Homo sapiens: one gene and its partners. The protein of the gene in region 3 purifies or fractionates together with the protein of the main gene of each other region. This does not show direct contact. Each region holds a gene or a part of one and is shown on either strand. Other genes may lie near its edges.

Evidence for each region.
Region 1: the proteins of SCAP (region 3) and TAP2 purify together in Homo sapiens (affinity purification with mass spectrometry; one large-scale study listed by BioGRID and IntAct). This does not show direct contact.
Region 2: the proteins of SCAP (region 3) and TRIM9 purify together in Homo sapiens (affinity purification with western blotting, with the first as the bait; one study listed by BioGRID). This does not show direct contact.
Region 4: the proteins of SCAP (region 3) and PCNX3 purify together in Homo sapiens (affinity purification with mass spectrometry; one large-scale study listed by BioGRID and IntAct). This does not show direct contact.
Region 5: the proteins of SCAP (region 3) and SPTLC2 purify together in Homo sapiens (affinity purification with mass spectrometry; one large-scale study listed by BioGRID and IntAct). This does not show direct contact.
Region 6: the proteins of SCAP (region 3) and PIGA purify together in Homo sapiens (affinity purification with mass spectrometry; one large-scale study listed by BioGRID and IntAct). This does not show direct contact.
Region 7: the proteins of SCAP (region 3) and CLCN3 purify together in Homo sapiens (affinity purification with mass spectrometry; one large-scale study listed by BioGRID and IntAct). This does not show direct contact.

What each region holds. Positions count from the first base shown.
Region 1 is NC_000006.12:32,828,740-32,832,239, reverse strand, and holds part of TAP2 (antigen peptide transporter 2), read left to right. Parts: intron 1-1,433; coding exon 1,434-1,622; intron 1,623-1,799; coding exon 1,800-1,973; intron 1,974-2,150; coding exon 2,151-2,310; intron 2,311-2,703; coding exon 2,704-2,840; intron 2,841-3,205; coding exon 3,206-3,334; 3' UTR 3,335-3,500. UniProt on the Homo sapiens protein: ABC transporter associated with antigen processing. In complex with TAP1 mediates unidirectional translocation of peptide antigens from cytosol to endoplasmic reticulum (ER) for loading onto MHC class I (MHCI) molecules.
Region 2 is NC_000014.9:50,980,106-50,983,605, reverse strand, and holds part of TRIM9 (E3 ubiquitin-protein ligase TRIM9), read left to right. Parts: exon of another isoform or gene 1-184; coding exon 185-226; exon of another isoform or gene 227-324; intron 325-640; coding exon 641-664; intron 665-1,106; exon of another isoform or gene 1,107-1,283; intron 1,284-1,502; coding exon 1,503-1,806; intron 1,807-3,500. UniProt on the Homo sapiens protein: E3 ubiquitin-protein ligase which ubiquitinates itself in cooperation with an E2 enzyme UBE2D2/UBC4 and serves as a targeting signal for proteasomal degradation.
Region 3 is NC_000003.12:47,469,442-47,472,941, forward strand, and holds part of SCAP (sterol regulatory element-binding protein cleavage-activating protein), read right to left. Parts: intron 2,075-3,500; exon of another isoform or gene 1-2,074. UniProt on the Homo sapiens protein: Escort protein required for cholesterol as well as lipid homeostasis.
Region 4 is NC_000011.10:65,629,276-65,632,775, reverse strand, and holds part of PCNX3 (pecanex-like protein 3), read right to left. Parts: intron 3,420-3,500; coding exon 3,361-3,419; intron 3,257-3,360; coding exon 3,041-3,256; intron 2,426-3,040; coding exon 2,172-2,425; intron 1-2,171.
Region 5 is NC_000014.9:77,610,138-77,613,637, reverse strand, and holds part of SPTLC2 (serine palmitoyltransferase 2), read left to right. Parts: intron 1-3,500. UniProt on the Homo sapiens protein: Component of the serine palmitoyltransferase multisubunit enzyme (SPT) that catalyzes the initial and rate-limiting step in sphingolipid biosynthesis by condensing L-serine and activated acyl-CoA (most commonly palmitoyl-CoA) to form long-chain bases.
Region 6 is NC_000023.11:15,325,524-15,329,023, forward strand, and holds part of PIGA (phosphatidylinositol N-acetylglucosaminyltransferase subunit A), read right to left. Parts: exon of another isoform or gene 2,791-3,500; coding exon of another isoform or gene 2,698-2,790; intron 524-2,697; coding exon 391-523; intron 1-390. UniProt on the Homo sapiens protein: Catalytic subunit of the glycosylphosphatidylinositol-N-acetylglucosaminyltransferase (GPI-GnT) complex that catalyzes the transfer of N-acetylglucosamine from UDP-N-acetylglucosamine to phosphatidylinositol and participates in the first step of GPI biosynthesis.
Region 7 is NC_000004.12:169,690,078-169,693,577, reverse strand, and holds part of CLCN3 (H(+)/Cl(-) exchange transporter 3), read right to left. Parts: intron 3,049-3,500; coding exon 2,926-3,048; intron 1,465-2,925; coding exon 1,258-1,464; intron 1-1,257.

The DNA of each region.
Region 1 (3,500 bases), on a different chromosome or scaffold from region 3:
CAATACAAAACCAAAACCCGCAAGTAATTTTGCTATGGAGAATTTTAAACATATGCCAAAAATGAGACAAAATAATATTACAAACTCACATGTATACATCCTGTGCTTTAACAATGATCAACTCATGCCCAATCTTGTTGGATCTGTATCCCCAGCCACTTCCCCCCACCCATATTATTCTGAAGCAAATCCAAGATATTGTATACTTTCATCTGTAAATATTTCAGTATGTTTCTTAAAAATACAAACATCTTTAAAAGTGTATAACAACAAAGCCATTATCACACCAAAAAATTAACAGTAGTTCTTAAAATTTATCAAATAGTCAATTGTCAAATTTCCACTTGTGGTATCCATGTAGTATATGTGTATGAGTGTGTTTATTATACTTTGCTTAAATCAGGATCCAGAAATGGTCCACATATTGTGACTGGTTGATACATCTTTTAAGTCTGTCTGTCTATCTATCTATCCATCCATCTATCCATCCATCCACCCATCAATCCATGTATCTGTCTAAAAGTTTCCCTTGCACAGTTTATTTGTTGAAGAAATAGGTTGTTTGTCCTGTGGAGTTTCTTAGGGTCTGGATTTTGTTGACTGAATCCCTGTGGTATTATATGCTCTTCTGCCTCTGTACTTCCTGTCTATTGATAGATAAACCTAGAAGCTTGTGAGATTGAGGGGTTTTTTTTGGTCTTTTTCCAGCAACAGTACTTTTTAGGTGGTGATGCATTCTTCCTCCAAGAGGCACACAATGTCTGGTTCTCTATTTGTGGCAACATCAGCCACTGATGAGCAGTACCTACATCCATGACAGAATTAGGGCTGCAAAAGGGAGATACTCTATCATTCTTCATGTATTAGCTGAAGTAGTCTATGAAGGGAGACTTCCCCTCATCTACCATTTCATTACCCGGTGGTACAGTTTGATGAGGAAAGGCAGAGTGAGCATTTAGATCTCTTCCTACATTTACCAGTTCTCAAAAACAGCTACTTCATCCAGGGCTTTATTTAAACATTTTCCTAGACACTTGATAAACATCTTTTTTGTGTAGAGAACTGCGCTGGGCACTCTGACGGCTACAAAGGTGAGTTGGGCACAGTGCCTGCATTTAAGGAGCTCCCCGTCTAATCAAGCAAGACAGAACTGGGCACAAGTAATAGGAAGCAGTAACTGAAAAGATCTGGGGCTAGAGGCAATGCTGTATGGTAGGAGAAGGGACTGTATATCCTTTATATTGCAAATTGGAACACTGGGGTATTGGTGCCACTTTTAAATTCCGTCCAAATTGTACATTTAAAAGTGGAGAATCTCTTTTGAGTATGGAGGAGGAGCAGTGCAGTTGTGAGTGGAGTGTGTGAGGAGTTGGGAGGGTGGTTTCTGGTAGAAGTGTGTTTAATTAGCCGGCTCTCCCATTCCTGTTTTCCAGACCCTGGTATACATATATGGGGATATGCTCAGCAACGTGGGAGCTGCAGAGAAGGTTTTCTCCTACATGGACCGACAGCCAAATCTGCCTTCACCTGGCACGCTTGCCCCCACCACTCTGCAGGGGGTTGTGAAATTCCAAGACGTCTCCTTTGCATATCCCAATCGCCCTGACAGGCCTGTGCTCAAGGTGCCTGAAAGAGGGAGGAAACCTGGACCCTTGCTCTCTGCTGCTAATGCATAATTGGACATCACAGCCTATAGTTCATTTGCCTCTGAGAACCTGGTCTTGCCTCTGCTAAGAAGAGAAATGGAGGGATTTTGAGGGAGAAGGGGCAGGCCCTTAACTCTTTTTCTGGTTTTCTAGGGGCTGACGTTTACCCTACGTCCTGGTGAGGTGACGGCGCTGGTGGGACCCAATGGGTCTGGGAAGAGCACAGTGGCTGCCCTGCTGCAGAATCTGTACCAGCCCACAGGGGGACAGGTGCTGCTGGATGAAAAGCCCATCTCACAGTATGAACACTGCTACCTGCACAGCCAGGTGGGTGAGGAGGGAGAAGACAGGGGACAGGAGAGGGGAGCATGTACAGAGAGAGGATGGGAGATCCACGGGAAGGCGCACCAGGTGTTCATTCTGAGGGAGGTAGGTGGGGAGGACAAAAGGGCCCCTGCCTTGGGGGTTTACACATAGTCCTCTGCCCCTGTCCCTGCTGCACAGGTGGTTTCAGTTGGGCAGGAGCCTGTGCTGTTCTCCGGTTCTGTGAGGAACAACATTGCTTATGGGCTGCAGAGCTGCGAAGATGATAAGGTGATGGCGGCTGCCCAGGCTGCCCACGCAGATGACTTCATCCAGGAAATGGAGCATGGAATATACACAGGTATCTTCTACAAATTGTAAGCTTGCTCCTTCAGTAAAAAAGAGAAAATCAGACTTACTCTTAGTGGTGAAGGTCGTGTCCCTGTAGCTTGATGTTTGCTGTTCCTCTGCCCTTTCCTCCATTCCTACGTCTCCTTCCCCACACACTGAATTCTTCAGCCTCCCTCTTGATCAAGAGTCTTTGTTTGCAGAGAGCAATGCAGCAGTGGTGCTCCCTCCGTGGGCAGCCCCGTCAGGTCCCCACCCCATGGCCCTCCTCCCACTGGGCCCTCCCCGCACTGGGCCCTCCCACCTCCCGAGGTCCTACTGGAAGTACCTGCTGTGCACTTGTCCCTCCTTGTGTGTTGTCTGTGTCACTTGTATCTGAGGAAGGGAATTTCTCTGATTTCCTCAGATGTAGGGGAGAAGGGAAGCCAGCTGGCTGCGGGACAGAAACAACGTCTGGCCATTGCCCGGGCCCTTGTACGAGACCCGCGGGTCCTCATCCTGGATGAGGCTACTAGTGCCCTAGATGTGCAGTGCGAGCAGGCCGTGAGTACCGTGAGAGGGCAGGGGACAGTGGGGCCTGGGAGGGGCATGCTGGGAGGATCAGACTGTGCAGAATTGGGCAGAGGGAGGACGAAGGACCTACTAGTGGAAACAGTCTGTGCCTTCTTGGGGTTGGGGAATGGAATCCGGTGGTGTGAGGGCAGCCCCAGTTCCCTCCTGGGCTTCCATTCCTCCAGCTGTGGCAGTACAGCCGGGAGAGAAGGGCAGTCCAGGCCTTTATCTACTGCCCTTTCCTACCTTCTTTTATTTCACACCTTCTTTACCCTAAATCATAAGAGATGGTGCCCAGGTGGATGTGGTGTCCATCTCATTCCTGTCTTTCTGAGGCACTGTGATCACCCCTTCAGCTGCAGGACTGGAATTCCCGTGGGGATCGCACAGTGCTGGTGATTGCTCACAGGCTGCAGACAGTTCAGCGCGCCCACCAGATCCTGGTGCTCCAGGAGGGCAAGCTGCAGAAGCTTGCCCAGCTCTAGGAGGGACAGGACCTCTATTCCCGCCTGGTGCAGCAGCGGCTGATGGACTGAGGCCCCAGGGATACTGGGCCCTCTTCTCAGGGGCGTCTCCAGGACCCAGAGCTGTTCCTGCTTTGAGTTTCCCTAGAGCTGTGCGGCCAGATAGCTGTTCCTGAGTTGCAGGCAC
Region 2 (3,500 bases), on a different chromosome or scaffold from region 3:
CATTTTGAAAGAGCAGAGGGGCAGTTTTTTACCCAACAAACTAAATAATATAAAAAGGGCTTTGTTTTTTCATGGATCAGGCCTCTGGTATCTATATTCAACTGGTGCTTTTTAAGCGTATACAAGTAATTTTTATCAACCTGGTTGTTGTTTCATAGCGTTGATGTGTAGTATCTCTTTATAGGATGCAATTTTGAGACACAATCTGCACCTTACTCTCAATTAGGCAAGTATACCTATTGTAATTATCTTTTACTTACGTGATTGGTGTGCTCAATTTCCTTCACAAAATAAATGGCGGCAACTTGTCTTATGTCAATAAAATTGTCTAATTGTCATTCTAACCCTATTATAGCAGTTTCTCAAACTCTTAAAAAATGGAAAAGATGCCTGTAGTGTTTAATGTTATGCCTCAAACCTTACTTTTCCCCCAGTTTTCTTTTACATCAGTGCAAAGCACTCTTTATGAGCACTAAATGTGGGTAAAGGTACAAGTCAGAGAGCACCTGTTTAGTATATGTGGCATTTTAAATTGAGTCCTTTTGGGGTACTAGTCTATCAAGAGAGACACATTTTCTTATCCATGTCAATTTTGCTTCCTATCTCTCTCCCCCATGCCTTTCACTTGGAATGACAACAGTTGACATTAAAAAGCTGTTGGCAGGTATGGAATAACCTTATTCTGTTACCAAATAGCAAAGACCAAAGTGCATGTGAGGTGTCTCACAGGTTTAATAAATCAGCAATTACATCTCTCGAGTGTGATATTTATAGGTGGCATTTAGAACTTGGGGCGTAACAATGCGTACAAAGACATCATTCTATCTGCACCTAATGTCCGAAATTCCTACTGCTCCAGCAAAATTTCTGACGTGTTAGTTTCAGGAGTAGCACGCAAACTGTGTTTTTTAAGTTATGCAGACAGCAACCTGTCCTACATGCAAGTCACAATCACTCATGAAAATTAGTTTATGTTGCTTATAGCTTCGCAGCTTGTGAGCTTTCACTAGAGCCGAGGAAGACTTCAAAGCGACTAGATGTTAGCACTTCTGCCGAAGGGATATTTCCTGATTTCACTCCATGTGTTTTATCCCTCCTCCATCTAGGACTCTAGCTCCTAGCCTCCCCGCCTCAGGGGTTACACAGGCATCTTAGCGCATCCCCTCTCCCTTTATGTCTCTGGTGCACTGTTCTGCCAGTCACCAGGTGAAGGGACTTGCACCTTCCAAAATCGATGCCACTTCACTCCCGGATCACCTGGTTGGGAGTGCAGTCTGAGCCAGGTAACCCCTGCTGAATCGGTCGTGTGTCCTCCGTCTGCTTCTGGTGCAGAGAGTACCAACTCCCAGGACGTGCCCCTGTCTGCCCTGGCCCTGGACGCCTCCTTCCTGCATGGCAGCATGAAAACGCTACACAACGCTCCTCACCCGCCCAGGAGTATGTTATGGTGCTGAGCTTGTTGGGTCTGTCTTAATAACCTGATTCCCTTCTGTTGTTCCCAGTGGCCTGGTTTGCTTTCGACCCTGGCTCGGCGCACTCGGACATCATCCTCTCCAATGACAACCTGACAGTGACCTGTAGTAGCTATGATGACCGGGTGGTGCTAGGGAAGACTGGCTTCTCCAAGGGCATCCACTACTGGGAGCTCACGGTAGATCGCTATGACAACCACCCTGATCCTGCCTTTGGTGTGGCTCGCATGGACGTGATGAAGGATGTGATGTTAGGAAAAGACGACAAAGCTTGGGCAATGTATGTGGACAATAACCGGAGCTGGTTCATGCACAACAACTCGCACACCAACAGGTACCCTGCAGCCCCCAAACCAAGCCTTCTTCACGTTGGCTTCTGATCAGGAGTGAGAGCCCCAGTTCAAAAACCTATTACATAGACCACATTCAGGAAATCAAACAGGTGGTCTACATTAAGTAGCACAGGCAATCTATGAGCCTCAGCTGAGTCCATGCTGGTGGTTTACTTTCTATATAATGATAGAGACTTGAGTACTTTCCTACTCCCTTCATTGCTGTATTTCACCCATGGCTGGAAACTAAGAATCCCAATGGATATCCATTATAAGAAAACAATCCAGGATGCTGAAACACCCAGACCTACAACTTAACAGAAAAGCACTTTTGGGCAAGTTACTTCGTTTTTTGAACCTCAGTTTCCAAATCCATCAAATTAGTACAATAAAATTTTTCCTTGTGGGAATCTTCTGAAGATTAAATGAAATATGTGAAAATGCCTTACATTGGAAGCACCTGAAAATAGTAGCCATTCTTCTTATTACGATTCATTAAACTAAAGCTTATGGATGCCAATTTGAATGGCTTTCTACTTATAGAGAACTCTCTTATTACTGTATTAATCCAGAGCAGCCAGTTTGCTAAGGAAAGGAAATACAGTAATCTCCTTGAGGTTTTCTTCTACCACCAAAATATAGATCATTATAATTGAACACATACTATAATGGATTTCCTTTCTCATTTGATTGTGTTCCTCAAATGTATTTTTCACAAATTTCCTAGGCAGAGAAATTTCTACTGTGGACCCTGGTCCACCTTATGCTCCAAGATTTCCCCAGGATACATTCTCATTAGTGTCTCTGAAAAAAAAAAAAAATACAGTAGTGTTCAACCAGATCAAAGGGAAAGCAAGTCAGACATTGGTAGGATAATTGGACCCCACTGTTTTATCTTTTTCTGTATGCTCATCACTGACCCTTCTCCAGCCTGTAGACTCCTAAAGCCTCCTTTTCCCTTGGATAGCTTCTATAGCATTCAAGTGTGTATTATTCGCTGTCACTTGAAGTGAACACACACACCATTTCACCATGAAAGCAAATCCTACTGGATGTAGATAAGTGGTTATCTTCAGTGATCGGCATTTTGTGGAACTCTCTGTCAATAGATTCTCAGTGCTATCACCCAAATGCCACACTTACTTTTTCCCTTTTAGCGTCTTTGTTTTGAAGTGCAGGAGTGAATAATGACATAACCATCACACTATGCAGAGAAACACATTCTTAATGCTGAACACATCTGCTTGCATGCAACCTGCATGTCACTTGTGCTTTCATTGTTAAACCTGTGAAGTAGCAAGAGGCAATTTGTAAACCTGTCTTTTAATGACTATGTACAGTCTGTATCCTGCATGCAAGAGGAAATGAATGACACAAATTCCTGTGCTCTGCTGAGATGAGGACGAAGTTCAATATTGCTAGATCTCAAAAAAATGGGAAAGACAAATCTGATCGTCCATTTTTAATGGCATTTTGTGAAACCATCAATTGAAGCATAAGACACAATTCTTTGTAAAATGGCATTTGTATGCAGGTTCTTTAAAATCACTACATCTCAGAGTATAATTATTTCACTGTACAGAGAAGAAGCCTCTTCTTCAGTGCTGTCATTTCACAGACAGCCTCCAAGTTCTTAATTCAAATGCAACAAGCCAAAAAACTGCTATCCTTCTGGAATGAGTTTTTCTGTTTAATG
Region 3 (3,500 bases):
ACCTTTACCTCTGGGTCCAAACAATTCTTCCTCAGCTTCCCAAGTAGCTAGAATTACAGGTGCGTGCCACCATGACCCTGCTAATTTTTGTATTTTTAGTACAGGCAAGGTTTCACCATGTTGGCCAAGCTGGTCTTGAACTTCTGACCTCAAGTGATCCACCCACCTTGGCCTCCCAAAGTGCTGGGATTACAGGCATGAGCCACTGCACCCAGCCACCAAATAATTTTAAAAGTATAATGAGAAGAGGCTTGCCTGCCACCATGTAAGACATGCCTTTGCTCCTCTTTCACCTTCTGCCATGATTGTGAGGCCTCCCCAGCCATGTGGAACTTATATTCATTGCTCAACAAGGAAGAGACTTGCAAGGCTATTACCCTGGGCAGTTGGCAAGACTCCATTTTGATCATAGTGCAAAGAGAGCTCTCAGATTGGAACAAGAAATTAGCCACAGATTCACTGAATCCTTGACCTCTTAGTTCACTGCCACAGCTCTACTATTGTGAAGAGAGAAGCGGTTTTGAAAGAAATGCTTTTAAATTAAAATAACCAAGGCATTCGAACAAAATATCGTTTGGCATTCTTAGGTAACTCTTTTAGACTAATGTAATGGTAGCAAAACTACTTTTAAGTGTGTATACAGATGGCTCTAATCCTAAAATATTTACATGCTGCAAATTATTTTCAGATTAAGTTGGTCAGCTTACAACAGGGGATCAAGAGCTAGCCTTAAGAGAACTTGTTTTTTACCCCATTACCAGTCTTATTGCTGATGCTGGCAAACCATCATACATTTAGGCCAATGGTTATATGTAGGCTCAGGTAAGAAGATTACTGCATCTGCTCAGTAAGTGCATCACCGTTGGGAAAAATAAAAAAGAACCTAGGGGACATAGCCAATGAGGAAGAAGACTGGCACTAGAGACCCTAAAGGGGCTTGGGATGGAGAAACCCAGGTGTAGCATAGGGCTATAGTGAGATGTGGGACTGGTAAAAAGGATTAAGTGAACATCTGTACACAGGAGTTAACACCCTTATCTGGGCAAGAAGAAAGCCTGACAACTAGGCATCAGCTCCTCAGGCAGAAAGCTAAAGGGTCTTCTCTAAGGACAGGAAAGGATCCCAAAGAAAAGAACCTTTGCGGGGCGCAGTGGCTCACGCCTATAATCCCAACACTTTGGGAGGCCGAGGCAGGCAGATCACCGGAGGTCAGGAGTTCAAGACTAGCCTGGCCAACATGGTGAAATCCCATCTACTAAAAGTACAAAAACTAGCCAGGTGTGGTGGCAGGTGCCTGTAATCCCAGCTACTTGGGAGGCTGAGGCAGGAGAGTCGCTTGAACCCAGGGGGGCGAAGGTTGCAGTGAGCCGAGATCGCACCACTGCACTCCAGCCTGGGCGACAAGAGCAAGACTCTGTTTCAAGAAAAAAACAAAAAAACCTTACCAGTTCCCCAGCATACTAGTGGGCTCCCTCCTCATTTACCCCAAAGTAACACCTATCAATTAATAAACTTCTCCCCCCAAAAAAAAGTATAATGAGGATTAAAGGATATAGATGAAACAAGAGTGTCCCCAAGTTAATGACTAAGTGACAGACATAACTGAGTGATAGGTACACAAGGGCTTATTGCTCTCTATTTGGATGTATATTTGAGTTTTACTATAATAAATATTAAAAAACAAACAAGTCTTCAAAATGTGCAAAGCTTTTCAAGAATTTATCCCCTTACAAATTTTAGCAAAAATGAGTACAGAAGAGGAGGCAGGGAAAGGCAAGGCTCAGAGGGATTCAACAGTATAAAAAATAAAATAAAATAAGAATAAGAACAAAGATTTGGCTATAAGAATACAATCACAGTAATATTTAGAACGGGAAGGAAATGTGTTATGTATTTTATAGTAAAACCTGAGACAAAGAGCAGAAACCATTAAAAACAATCTAGACGATTAAAACACTTAAGCACAAGCTGGAAGACCCTGGATACAAACTTGACTCTGAGCTTCCTAGTGGCCAAGGCAGAGAGAGGAAAACATCAACATAGTTCTAGTATACTTAGAGGTATACTACAGGCGCATGCCACCACACCTGGCTAACTTTTGTATTTATAGTGGAGACGGGGTTTCACACATGTTGGTCAGGCTGGTCTCGAACTCCTGACCTCAGGTGATCCACCCTCCTCAGCCTCCCAAAGTGCTGAGATTACAGGCATGAGCCACTGTGCCTGGCCAACACCTTGTATATTTTATGCTTTCTGAAAATGCTAAATATCAAATAAGCCACTGGTTCCCAAATGTTTTGATCATGAATGCCCAACAACAAAAATTCAAGTATATGCTCCCAATACATGTACACTTACATATAAATTATATATGTACTACAGTGATAATACAGTGTACATTATAAAGTACATAATAAAAATTATTATGGTGGTTCATGCCTGTAATCCCAGCACTTTGGGAGGTTAAGGTGGGTGGATCACTTGAGGCCAGGAGTTTGAGACCAGCCTAACCAATATGGTGAAACCCCATCTCTACTAAAAATACAAAATTAGCCAGGTGTGGTGGTGCACAGCTGTAATCCCAGCTACTCGGGAGGCTGAGGCAGGAGACCAAGATTGCAGTAAACCAAGATAGCATCAATGCACTCCAGCCTGGGCAACAGATTGAGTGAGACTCCATCTCAAAAAAATAATAATAATAATTAAATGGGGCCGGGCGCGGTGGCTCACGCCTGTAATCCCAGCACTTTGGGAGGCCGAGGCGAGTGGATCATGAGGTCAGGAGATCGAGACCATCCTGGCTAACAAGGTGAAACCCCGTCTCTACTAAAAATACAAAAAAATTAGCCGGGCGCGGTGGCGGGCGCCTGTAGTCCCAGCTACTCGGGAGGCTGAGGCAGGAGAATGGCGTAAACCCGGGAAGCGGAGCTTGCAGTGAGCCGAGATTGCGCCACTGCAGTCCGCAGTCCGGCCTGGGCGACAGAGCGAGACTCCGTCTCAAAAAAAAAAAATAAAATAAAATAATAATAATAATAATAATAATTAAATGAAGCTGAAATAAACAGGAAAATTAGTTTTATTTTTTTCCTGAGATCCACGTGCATCTTTATGCTTACATACCAACTTTGGACCCCACTGCAAAGCTTCCTTATGATTTAGCATCCCTGCAACCATTCTAGGTTAGTGCCCTTGACTGCTTAAGCAGAAACTGTCAAATGGCAGTGGTCAAATTGCTGTCACCTTCTTGCTGAGTTCCACCATCCCCACACTAGAGTCAGTGACGCTGGCTTCCTCCCACCACCCCTACCACCTTCTTCCACTACCCTTACCTGCCAATGAGCAACAGAAAAGACTGTGGGCTGCGTGCAGTGGCTCACGCCTGTAATCCCAGCACTTTGGGAGGCCGAGGCGGGCGGATCACCTGAGATCGGGAGTCTGAGACCAGCCTGACCAATAGGGAGAAACCTCGCCTCTACTAAAAATACAAAATTAGCCAGGCG
Region 4 (3,500 bases), on a different chromosome or scaffold from region 3:
GAGACCTTGTTTCAAAAAAAAATAAAAAAAAGAAAAGCTTCAGGGACCGGGAGAGGAGCTGGCCTGGCACATATCAGGTGCTTGGTTAACCTTCACCAGTGCCATCCTTTTCTCTGACACAACACTCACGGTCATCTTAGGAAGAAAATGAAGACGGGGGGCAATACCAGCAGCCGCTCCGCCTGTGAGCGCTCACTGCGAGCTGGGCTCTGCCCAAGGTACTTCCCGGGAAGCACTGCCCAGACTCCGTGCAGCCTCAAGCCACGGTGCCTTTTCCTGCTCTTGTAGCCCTTCCCAGCTGCAGAAGCAGGTCTGAGAGCCCAGTAACTCCCACGGGAAGGGCAAAGCTAACGGGAGGGGCTCCGCCTCGACTGGCCAACCTCGAAGGCTGGAAAGGACCTATCCCTGCAGCTGGGACACTTCCCCAGATGCACCAGGCTCCCCAGCACACCCGCCTCCCCCCGCCCCACCCCTGGCAGCCCTGACTTGTCCTTCCAAGCTTCACCCTCAGTCCACATCCTCAGCGGAGCCACCCCAGGTCCTCCAAGCACTTCCTCCAGACTCAAATTCTGCCCAGCCTTTGAGGCAGCCTTAGATGTGGCCAGTCAGCTTCCCCATGGGACAAGAGACCTGGCCAGGTGCATCTCAACCTGCTGGCCCTAGCCTAGCAGGCACAGCAGGGCAACCTGGGCAAGGGCACCTCTCTCAAGATGGGACCGGAAGGTGGACCAGGCCATGACCTCTCGGTGACCTGGGACTGGGAATGTCCCTCTCTAGACACAGCCTCCTTCTTGATGAAAGGGGGGTGGTCTCACAAATCCTTGCCTAGGAGTGGCTGGGAGGGCAGAAGGAATGACAAATGACAGCTCCTCTGATATGTGGTGTGGACAGGATTTCCTTTGGAGAAGGACAGCCAGGGCCTCGTGAAACTACTCCAGAGAGAACCTAGGTGGCAGGCTCACCTGGGCCCCAGTAGGCCACCCACCGAGCCCAACATAGGGAGCACCAGGGTAGATCCTAAGAAGGCACGTGGGAGCCTGCACTGTGATCAGCAGGCCACCCCACTCCCAGTACGCTTATTCTGAGCACCACAAGCCTCAAAATTCCTTTTTTTTTTTTGAGACAGTCTTGCTCTGTTGCCCAGGCTGGAGTGCAGTAGCACGATCTCGGCTGGCTGCAACCTCTGCCTCCCAGGTTCAAGTGATTCTCCTGTCTCAGCGTCCCAAGTAGCTGGGACTACAGGTGCCCGCCATCACACCCGGCTAATTATTTTGTATTTTTAGTAGAGATGGGGTTTCGCCACATTGGCCAGGCTAGTCTCAAACTCTTGACCTCAAGTGATCCACCTGCCTTGGCCTCCCAAAGTGCTGGGATTACAGGCATGAGCCACCACGCTTGGCCAAGCCTCAACATTTCTGCCATCTCAGAGAACTGCAATAACCCCCACTTCTCAAGGGGTAAGCTGAGGGACACAGGGAAGAAACATTCCAGGCTGATCAGAACCCCCATTCCAGGGCTCCTTATGTACCCCACATTGCCTCACCAACCCCCTCCCACCCCCAAGAGGTCTCAAGATCCTCAGGCCTGGCTCAGAGCCCCCAGGCTAAGGCAGGAAAGCTCTGTGGCTCAGGGCCAGCCTGGGTTCAAGGCCTGGCTTGGCCATTTTCTTCAGATTCTGGAACCTCTGCAAGCCAACTTCCACATCTGTGAGATAGCAGGGCCCCTCTCAAAGGGTGGGGGACTCCACCCAGCTCAGGAGAGATGCCCAGCATAGCGCCCACCCGTGGTAAATGTTACTGCTCAAGCAGCTGCTCCCATGATGATCGTTAACGTGACAACTGTTAGCTCTACCACTGCTCTGTGCTGGGTGAGCTGGGGGCAGGGGCTGGTGGTTTCAAAGGCTGGCCTCTGCAACTGCCCACCTGCCCCATACTCACTGCCCAAAGCAAGCCTTCCTTGCCTGGGCACCTATCAGAGCCATATGGGCACAGAGGCCCCTGCAACCTGAGGTCTGGCAGTGGCACCTCAGGGGACACTTAAACTCTCTGAGGCCTCAGCTTCCCTTGGACAAAACAGGCTCCCAACAACCCAGAAAGGGGGTACTGGGGCCTCTGGTCAGCGAGCGCTCACCCGCAAGGGCCCTGCTGCCCGGCCACACCTGCCCACCGTACCTTGACATAGTAGGTGATGAGGATCTTGCGGAGGTCGAAAACCTGCAGCATGGAGGCAGCATTATTGTCACTAATGCTATAGCCCTCCAGCACGTACTTGCTGGCTGTTACCTCCCAAGCCAGCCAGCGCTGCCCAAAGGCAGCATTGAAGGACAGGACCCGTGGCAGGTGGCCAGGTTCACAGCAGCAACAGCCCTCGTCCTCCTCCACACCCTCGGTGATAGCCTCCACCTCGCGCTGCTGGCAGTAAGTGCCTGTGGAGGAGGGGTGTGCAGTCAGGGGCTGCTAGAACAATCCCTACCTGCCCTGTCCTGGGAGAGTGACCAACATGGCATCAGAGGCCTGCTGCCATTCACCCCCTTGGACGCCAGGGGAGTCAACCTTATTGGATGCCAAGATTCACGAAAGAGCGCCTGCCTTTCTCCTCCCAACTCCCAGCATCCAAGGGCAGGGCGGGAGGGAGCAGGGACACGGTCTGGCCCCTCTGCACTCTCGGGCATCCAACACACACGTCTTCCTGAGAGGAAGGAGCTGGCTCACTCATGGCGCCCAACCCATGGGCCAAGCCTGAGACCACAGAGCAGGCTGGGTGTGAGAACTCAGACCTCCAGGCCCAGGCCCTCACTGCAGTGACCTGTAGAGTCACTGGGACCTAAAGTTGGGGCAGGCACAGGGCTTGGCCAAGAGACCCTGCCACCTCATTGCTCAGACTGGGAAACGCAGGCCCAGGGAGGAGGAGTGCCTTGCCCAAGGCCACCCGCCAGCCTGGACAGAGCTGGACTGGACCTCCTTCGCACGTGCTATTGAACACAGCTCCCACATCAGGCCCGAGCTGTGCCTGCCCACCCGAGCCTGGTCCTGCGGCTCACCCCGGAACTCAAGGCCACGCAGCTGGAAGGTGACGAGGCCATTGCCAACCTCGATGAGGTGCACCAGGGCGTTGAGGTAGTCAGAGGCCAGGACGAAGCAGTCACCAGGGCCATAGTTGCCCCAGCGGCCCAGCACCAGGTCCCCACACAGTGTGTGCTGCAGCGAACGTGTCAAGTGCTCATAGAAGATGGAGTTGAGGTTGTTGTCATCAGCGCCTAAGACCCAGAACAGACGGGCAAATGGACAAAGTGACAAGTTAGCGAGGCTCCCTCCCCAGGGAGGCCCTGCCCTAAAGCCCCTTGGATGGCTGGGTACACACCAGGGTTCCTGTCCAGCTGTGTGACCAGGCGGGTGTTGGAATGATCCACACGTTTAGTGCTGTTCAGAGAGAGTGCAACAAGGCGGTTGGCCAAGAAGGTGAAGAGAGGGTGCACCCTGCTCATGCTCTCCCTGTGCCAC
Region 5 (3,500 bases), on a different chromosome or scaffold from region 3:
AGAAACGTCTAGGATCACTTTACACTCTCAAGAGTATGTTTCTGTGCTTGAAGAGATGAATGAATGTGTATAGTAAAAGAACAACTCTTGGATTTGGGTTTAGAATTTGATGAGCTAGATGCTGTGTTAAGGAGTTATGAAACAATCACACATTGCTGTTTAGTGATGACAGTAGACACACAGTTTTCACAATAGTAACAGTTGAACAATAGAGCAGTAATTTTTCCTCTCTGCTATTCAGATGAGTGGGAGGAGCACAAACCTTTATTTGAGGTAAGGTGTGGCAATTTGCCCGAGGGAAACTTTTACATTAGCATTGGAAAGAACCTTTGGGAGTTTATTTAATTCAGTCCTTTATCTCTTTGTAGGAGTTTATTAAAATCAGTCTTGATAGAAAATTCTGTACTGTTTTTAAAGATCTCCAGGGGATTTGCAGCAAGTTTTTCTCTATAGCAAATTGGATTATTATTCCATGATCTTAATTACCAAATTTCTTCCTGTGGATTTAACATTTGATGAAATAAATGCCATGTTTTGGTTGCACCTGAAATATAGTAGTTTGTTTGTGTGTTTGTTTTTAAAACTTCACGTTAACAGCTCTTTTTAAAAGAGCTTCCATTTCTTTATAGAAGTTTTGAGATTTAGGTTTTCCTTTTACTTTCCTGAGTTAGTTAATAAGTGTGAAAGAAAAAAAGTTATCTACCTTTGAGACAGTTTTGACCCTAACTTTTTTCCCTTTGGGTGTAGTTTTAATGAGATATTAGAAGGATGAGAGCTCTCTGGCTTACAGAATAAAAAATTCTATCTCAAGGAATTGGGGCAAAAGTTGTGTTCTTATGTTAAATAATAAGCAAAGTAGAAAGAACAAAGTGTTAGTCTTGCTTCTTAGGAGGAGGCAAATAAATAACTAATAAAGCTGGTTTACTAAATAGCTACTAGCTTTTGTTTCCACTGAGGGAGAAACAGTAACTGGGGGTTTATATGTGATAGTTAAGGAAAAGGAGACGATAGTTATGAGGCTAGAACAGTAGAAATAGTTAGAATAGTCATATATCTATTTAGATTTAGCAGATCCTGATAAGATACCTCAGATACCTGAAGGCTTTTCAGAAATAATGTAATTTACAACTTGGAGGACAAGATTTTCATTTCAGTTTTCACTCTAAGGGGAAGCATATCTTGATTCTTACATAGCTGCATCTGAAGAATTCCAGAGTTATTTGAGATACTCAGGAATTTTCTTTAACAGGAATTCTTGGGAAATGTGTAAGCAGCTATGTTCTTAAGATAGTATTTTAGAACTAGGATGTTCAGAAAAGTCAGACTTGCCCACTTTTTAGGGTTTGCCCATGTGCCATAGAAATTTGCACCGCTTTGAGCAAGACAGTTAATTGGTTGATTTAATTAGATTCAGTTTTTGGAAGAAAGAAGCAGTGTTTATTGGTAGAATAGGCAATTCAGAGGGATGGGTAGAGGCACTGTTTGCATTCTGAGTGGGTGTGCCATACTTGATTAAATAAATGGTTTGTGGACTCAAAGTCAGTTCCCTTCTGGGTAGTTTCTGAGAAGCTTCTGTAATATAATTCACAATTTGTGACCGATAAAAAAGTAAGTCCTTTGCTCTTGACCCATTTACTGTTAGAAAATTTATCTTAAGTTTGTCTTTAAGACTACTTTTTATTGCAAAGCTTGAGGCAGCTATTCTTCCTTTTTTAAAAAAATAATTTTTACTTCTCATTATAGAAATAATACATGTTTAATGTGGGATCATAAAACATTGAGATAATCTCTGCGTTAGGTTTTTTTTTTTTTGAGACGGAGTCTCACTCTGTCGCCCAGGCTGGAGTGCAGTGGCGCCATCTCAGTTCACTGCAGCCTCCACCTCCCGGGTTCAAGCGATTCTCCAGCCTCAGCCTCCTGAGTAGCTGGGATTACAGGCATGCGCCACCACGCCTGGCTGATTTTTGCATTTGTAGTAGAGACAAGGTTTCACAGTGTTGGCCAGGCTGGTCTCGAACTCCTGACCTCAGGTGATCCACCTGCCTCCGCCTCCCAAAGTGCTGGGATTACAGGCGTGAGCCACCACGCCTAGCCGGAGGTTTGTTTTTTAATGTGGTCTATTGTAAATCCATCTGCTACTTTCCGTTAATTTCTTTTCTTTCTTTTTTTTTTTTTTTTTGGCGAGATAGGGTCTCGCTCCAGCCTGGCCTGCAGTAGCACAGTCATAGCTTACTGCGGCCTCAACTTCTCGGGCTCAAGCGATCCTCCCATCTCAGCCTCCCAAGTAGCTGGGTCCACAGGTGTGCACCACTACAGTGGGCTAATTTTTTTTTTTGAGACAGAGTCTTGCTCTGTCACCCAGGCTGGAGTGCAGTGGCGCGATCTTGGCTCACTGCAAGCTCTACTTCCCAGGTTCACACCATTCTCCTGCCTCAGCCTCCCGAGTAGCTGGGACTACAGGTGCTCACCAACACACCCGGCTAATTTTTTTTTTTTTTTTGTATTTTTAGTAGAGACAGGGTTTCCCCATGTTAGCCAGGATGGTCTCGCTCTCCTGACCTTGTAATCCGCCTGCCTCAGTCTCCCAAAGTGCTGGAATTACAGGCTTGAGCCACCATGCCTGGCCTTTTTTTTTTTTTTTTTTTGTAGAGATGGGTCTTACTATGTTCCCCAGGCTAGTCTCTTTTTTACTTAAACAAACAAACAAAAATAAATAAAAATATATATATATAAAGAGAGAGGGAGACAGAGAGAGAGGGAGACAGAGTCTCACTATGTTGCCCAGGCTGATCTCAAACTGTTGGGTACAATCGATCCTCCTGCCTTGGCCTCCTGAAGTGCTGAGATTATAGGTGTGAGCCACCGCACCCAGCCACCCAGGCTGGTCTCAGACTCCTGACCACAAGCATCCTCCTGCTTCAGCCTACCAAAGTGCTGGGATTACAGCCACTGTAGCAGACTATTTTGTGATAATTTCTAAGTACAGTGAAATATGCGGTTGTACTGATACTATGGGTGTGATCCAGTCTTACTCCAAAAAATAGGTATTAAGGGCTGGGCACAGTGGCTCATACCTGTAATCCCAGCACTAAGGGAAGCCAAGGTGTAAGGATTGCTTGAGCCCAGGAGTTCAAGATCAGCCTGGGCAACGTGGCGAGACCCCATCTCTATTTAATTAAAAAATAATAAGGTATATGACCAGGTACCGTGGCTCACGCCTGTAATCCCAGCACTTTGGGAAGCCGAGATGGGCGGATCACTTGAGGTCAGGAGTTTGAGACCAGCCTGGCCAACATGGTGAAACCCCGTCTCTACTAAAAATGTAAAAATTAGCCGGGTGTGGTGGTGTGTGCCTATAATCCCAGCTACTCTGGGAGTCTGAGGTAGTAGAATCGCTTGAACCCAGGAGGTGGAAGTTGCAGTGAGCCAAGATGGTGCCACTGCACTTCAGCTTGGGCGACAGTGAGACTCTGTCTCAACAAAACAAAACAAAACAAAAC
Region 6 (3,500 bases), on a different chromosome or scaffold from region 3:
GTAAGTTACTGAGGAAGAGACTTGTCCAAATCTGTATGTGCAGAGCAATTTACATGATTTGAGCCCTATTACTTAAATCACTACACAGTATGGCCTGGAAATCTGCAAACGCTTCCAGTTAAAGCAGCTGTTTTTTGTGCCTTTCATGGTGCCTCCAACAATGGCCCCCCAAAGTCAAATAATATTGGGCTAATGGAAAAAATAGTGAATTAACTAGGTTTCCTATTTATATAAAAATTTTGAAAACAGTCCTTGCATTAGATTTATATCAATTATATGTATATCAATTACATGCAGGAGAAGCAACACACCTAAGGTACGCATGCAGTTAAAACCAAATAGAGATAATTGACATCTTCTCCCTCAAGACAACATGAAATTCATCAATACCTGTCATGCAGCTGGTATCTTTCCCGAACTTCTTCCAAAATGATTCTCTTTGGTCCCTCTCCTCCAATTATGAAATTTAAATCTGGATATTTCTGACAGAGTTCAGGTATTATACCACTAAGCAAATCGATCCCTGAAAATATAAAGTTGAATGTTGGAGATATTAATATTTAAACTTAAAAAAATTCACCAGAACGACTGAGAATCCACTTATTTTGAAAAGTATTAGCTATGCACTCCATAAAGGAGAGAAACTCTCTTAAACCTTTTCCAGGAGTGGAATTGTTTGCAAACTGGCAGTGGTCCCCCAAGAGTTACAATTCTTGAAGACGTAGACCTTGACATGCATTACCTTCCACACACCCAAAATATGGACTATTCTGTTTCATCTCAACAGACTATTCTTTAAGTTATTCACTTGTGTTTATACATTGCGTACTTCTAAAAAAGGTATATTTAAGGTGGCTAAGGTTTGAGTTCGTTTTCTCCAGAGCAGGCAGCTGATTGGAGATCTGGGTCTTTTCCCAGCTTTTTTAACCAGCAAGCCCATTGATCGTGGGGAAGTTTCAAGATCTATAAAATAAAGATACCTATGTACCTAAAGTCTCTTTCAGCTATAAAATTCTATCAGTCTGTGATCCCACTTACTGCCACAGGAAAAGGCTAAGCAACGAAATCTAACTGCTGCCTCCACTTTGTTTAAAATGTGGCTGGTACAGAGAATTTTGCAGTGAACACTACATTATCGCAAAATTTAAGTTCAAACCAGCTATAGCCCACTTTCCTGGAATGAGGGTAAATGAAGGCAGCAGGGCATCAACTGTTAGATCACTACAGTCCATAGAACAAAAGGATGCATCTTGGCTCCTTTTTTCTCCAAAATGATTTTCTTATAATATATAAACACAATCTCAGGTAATAGAAAACAATAAAGTAAATTATGCCCTATTAGTCTGAAAAAGTGAGTGGCTATCCAAAGTCCCAACAATGTCAACACTATTTAAGAATCTAGTTCATTAACAATTACAAAACGTACATATTCAAAAGTAAGAGTAGGCAGGGCGCGGTGGCTCACGCCTGTAATCCCAGTAATCCCAGCATTTCGGGAGGCCAAGGCAGGCGGATCACAAGGTCAGGAAATTGAGACCATCCTGGCTAACATGGTGAAACCCCGTCTCTACTAAAAATACAAAAAATTAGCCGGGCGTAGTGGCGGGCGCCTGTAGTCCCAGCTACTCCGGAGGCTGAGGCAGGAGAATGGCGTGAACCCGGGAGGCGGAGTTTGCAGTGAGCCGAGATTGCGCCACTGCACTCCAGCCTGGGAGACAGAGCGAGACTCCGTCTCAAAAAAAAAAAAACAAAAAAAAAGTAAAAGTAAATATAAAATAATCCACCTAGAGCTAAGTTTATTAATTTTAAAAATGCACACACACATAAGAATTGTATTTCTTAATCTTCCACCCCAAATAGGCAGATCAGTTATAAAATAGATGATATTTTATATCAGATATAAAATAGGAGAAATGACATATATATTATAGGGTCATTTTTATTAAATAATACAAAGTAGAATTCATTAAGTAAACTCTGCTAGTACTTTCAAACTGTTATTGTATGTATCAAAAATTCCCACGCAGCTTTTCTGAATATGAAGGCTTCTCATTAAAATCATAGCTATCTTTGTTTCATGTCTACTAACAAATCACTCAATTGGATTTCTAGATAAACCAGAAGGTAGTTTAATGACTTTTAACATTTAGTCTCCTACAATTCCTTCAATCCATTTTCTTCCTCACCCTTTTCTTTCTCGTACAAGGTTAAGAGCCCATTCTTCAAACAAACAAAAAACAACATAGAGCAATAGTCATAAATGATAATAGCTAACAGTAACAGAGTGCTTGCTATGACAGGCAATATACTTTAAATTCATTATGTCATTTAATCCTGACAAGTATCTCATAAGAAATGGAACTGATTACTATTACCAATGATCTATATTCTTATTCTAAGAATAAGGGCTTTTCCCCACCACTATAAAAAAATTTATTCTGGAGCCTCTAAGAAGGGTATAATGCAATGGAACCTAGAGACTTTCGACTGCCATGTGAACACAAAACAGACAATGAAAATCTCTGATCCAAACTGCTTTTAAAGCTCAGTCTAACAATATTTTTAAGAACCTTCTGATCTACACCTAGGATATGAGTGGCTGGGCATGGGTGGAGGAAGAGGAGAACTTAGCTCCAGAAAAGCTGAACTCGTGTGTCATCTCTGTTACTTACTGTGTAACCTGGGTGAGTTACTTACCCTCTCTGAGACTCAATTTCATGTAGATAACATCTACCCTACAGTTGTTGGGAGGGTCAAATGAGGTATTGTACCACGAACAGGCTTTATCAACTGCAGAATACAAATGTAGGTTGTCATTACCACTACAGAAGGAAGCAGGTGAGCGTGCCTACACATGCAGAGTGCTGGTAAATCCTGACTGAGAGCAAAACAGGCTTGGAAGAGGAGGCTCAGGAAAAAGACATCCAAAAAGCCTGGATAAGGAAAACTTTGATTTATCCTCTCTCTCACTTAAGACATTCCAGTGGGACTTTGATATCTGGTCCAATAAACTCCTGAGGAAATTAATTTGTTAATAAGGAATGGACCATTAATACAACTACTCACTTTTGGGCTACAGGCATGGCTGTTCCTTTTCAGAATGTTACTTTCTGCAGGGTGCCTGGCATCTGGAGAGGGTTCGATAAATAACTGTTCAATTACTGAATTGAGTACAGGAAAGGCCATACCATCACTCCATTGGTGGTTAGCTCAGCTAGTTAAAATACCACATTAGGGAAGTAAAGGTAACAGGTTTAATCTTTGCATGGGTAGTTAATTTTGCTGATCCTTGATCACACTTGTGTCATACTCTTTCTCAGCTAGCCATCTCAAGAAGATATGCTATTTGGTTAAAAAATAAATTAGGTACAATTCCTAAGTTACAAAAAAACACATCACTAATGTCCCAGGAGGAATTCAGAATACAGAATGCCAGTCGGTTCACATGTTCCTGATTAAAGAATGAAAGCATGTCATTGCCTTCAAACCAGAAAATGAAG
Region 7 (3,500 bases), on a different chromosome or scaffold from region 3:
AGTAGGTAAGACCACAGACTTTGAAGTCAAAGAAAAATGAATTTTAACCTACGTTCCACCACTTACTAGGTATGTAGTCTCGGGCAAGTTAGTTAGCTGTTTTCAGCCCTAGTTTACTAATCACTAAATGAGGATAACAGGGCCATATTACTAAATTACTGTGAAATTAAGTATTAAAATCCAAGTAAAGTATCTGCCACAGTACCAGATACACAGAAAGTAATCAATAATGCTAGCTATTTTTGTTATAAAGTACTGGAATCACAATTATTCAGAGATGAAACTACGACAATCTGAAGTATTCCACTTTTGGGATATCTACGTCCAATGCAAGGACAATATTTTAATGCGAACATTAAAATGTACTAGAATTATTTCAATTGAAGATTAAACAGTTTGATAAAATATTCTACTTTTTTGGTTACAGTACATTAAAAAACTCAACAAGATGAAAAGGTTCTGCCAGTATTTAATGAGATGTTTTTCAAAAAATCATATCTTAAAAACTCAAAGATCTCTGTACCATCTAGGGCTGTAGATTTAGATTTGGAAAATAGGAAGGGACTGGGCTCCCAAAGTCTAGAGCTAATATAAAGGATTCAGGAAAATGCCCAGAGCAATATGGAAACATCAGAGGAAATCCATAATATATATAAGGTTTCAAGGTCTTGTAGAAGATCTCAGGCTGGCCTAAAGAAATGGTAAAGGAAATTGCCTTAAACAATCAAATGAAAAGGATTTCCTGTAATCTCTTTAATGTGAATTTCTGATTTAAACTTCAAGAGCTTCTAAAGGCCCTCAGAACTTCCCCATAGCACTGGATAGCATTTTTCATATCACACACCACTTACACTGGCACCAGACACTGCCTCCAGGAGGAAAACATAGCTATTAAGATTTCCCAACCTCTTAATGTTGAAAGTAAGAGTGAAAAACAAAGCTAAGCTTAGAAAACACTTCAGAAGAGGAAAGATGTAAGGTAAAGTGATAACAGGAAGATCTTCGTGAAATGCAGCTGAAACCCAATGGACACCAGCTGTCTATCTAAAGCTTCTCTAAAATGTAAGACGAACTGAGCAGCACTGGGAATGGATTCTAGAAAGATGTTATAGATTATTCAGGAAAAACAGAAGCACAAATCTCAAAATTTTTTATCTGAATACAGAATTTATTATTTTTACACTAAGAAATTCTTTACTTAAATAAATACTATATAATATATATTTTTCAGTCAAATTAACTACAAAAGACACTTACCTCCCTTTTTTTAGCTTCGTTTGTGCTATACTTTGGAAAGAGGTAGGAAAAGATATTTCCGCAGCAACAGGCAACATGTACCAGGGGACCTTCTTTTCCTAAACTCAAACCTGATGCCACAGCCAGGACTAATGTGATGGTTTTAATCATTAAAGTCCATTTTCCCAAGTAACCTCTGATGATGAATCCACTTAAAATAGTTTTAATCTACAAGGCAAAGATTAAGGCAGCTTAATGTCCTTTAAGAAACATGAGAATGTAACGAATCCAAGTTATTTTCTTGTTTTATGCACAAAAACAACCTTGCAAATTTTAGCAGTCTACAGAAAAATTTACAGTTAATTTTTCGAAAACTTTGCCTATTATGCTACATATAATAAATTGATATTATAATCTAATTCTCTACCCAAGAAAGGAGAGAGGGCAACACTATCTCAGGAACAAAATCAAAATATCAGGCCATGTTAAAATGAATACAGACCTTAATTATAAGGATTATAATTACATAACCAAAAAAAGGGCAAATTTGAATATTTCTGTTGTAAAAATAAGCATAATATTTTAAATATATTTTGGACATTATGTTAGAAATAAGAATATTATGTTTTCTCTGAGTACTGTAATTATGTGCAATAGTTTTTTATGTATCAAGAATGAGTAACAACTGTTATATACTGCATGATATTGCTTTTTATGAAAGATATTCTTAATACAAACTTAAAGATCAATACAATTCCATTTTAAAAAGAAATGTATTAGGAAAAAGTTGGTAACTTATTTAACTACAGAAAAATAAAAGAGAAGAGATAAGTTCAAATCAAGTTCAATCAATCCTATGTATAACTCTACTTTATTGTGATGAAAAATAAAACCCAAAAGTTTGTACTGTTGACCCACTGTGATTAACTACTTTCTCAAAGCATAAAATGGCCAAATTCAAGAATAATTAACTTATCTAATCAAAAGGTAATTATAAAAAGTGAATGAATCAAAATCAGGGTCATAGCCACGTGTGGTGGCTCACACCTGTAATCCCAGCACTTTGGGAGGCTGAGGCGGGTGATCACTTGAGGTTAGGAGTTTGAGACCAGCCTGGCCAACATGGTGAAACCCCATCTCTACTAAAAAAAAAAAACAAACAAAAAAATGCAAAAATTAGCAGGGCATGGTGACAGGTGCCTGCAATCGCAACTCCTCAGGAGGCTGAGACACAAGAATTGCTTGAGCCTGGGACGCAGAGGTTGCAGTGAGCTGAGATTGCGCCACTGCACTCCAGTCTGGGCGACAGCACAAGACTCAGTCTCAAAAAAAAAAAATTCAGGGTCATAACAGCAAAGTAACAACTAACCCGTCAAAGAACATTAGGTCACAAGATACTTCTTCCAGGCTCTTGATGTTTAACTAAATAGTCTGAAAATTTGCCTAGTCATGTGTTAAATTAGTGGTGAGAGAAAAAAAAAATCAGCCTTCACAGTAAATGACCAAATGACTATGGGGAACAATATTTTTCAATGATGTCTACCATCAGCTTATACTTAAAAAAATTTTTTTTTCATATTATGAACAAACTATCCCCTCCCTCCAGAAAAGCCAACTTTTATTATCACTAAGGTCAAAAAGATAAGCATCATAATAATGTTTAATGACACTAAATATTACTTGGCTTACCTCTGGAATTCCAGAGCCACAGGCATATGGAGCAAATACCTTTACCAGGGAAACTGCAAGAAAGGCAAAACTCAAGGCCCAGAAGATGTACATTATGTAGTTCATGATATAAGAACCAGGACCCTAAAAAGAAAATAGTTCGAGAGTATGAATTTAATTTACATTGCACCTCTAATGCAAATGCTTGTCATAAGAAACTTCAGTAAACGGCCAGGCATGGTGGCTCACGCCTGTAATCCCAGCACTGGGGAGGTTGAGGCGGGTGGATCACCTGAGGTCAGGAGTTCGAGACTAGCTTGGCCAATGTGGTGAAACCCCGTTGCTATTAAAAATACAAAAATTAGCTGGGCATGGTGGCGCACGCCTGTAATACCAGCTACTCGGGAGGCTGAGGTAGAAGAATCGCTTAAACCCCAGAAGCGGAGGTTGCAGGGAGCCGAGATCGTGCCACTGCGCTCCAGCCTGGGCAACAGAGTGAGACTCCATCCCACCGGCCAAAAAAAAAAAAAAAAAAAGAAAGAAAAGAAACTTCAGTAAAATGTGTAAAAGTCTCCTGGTTTATTTCCACAATAATA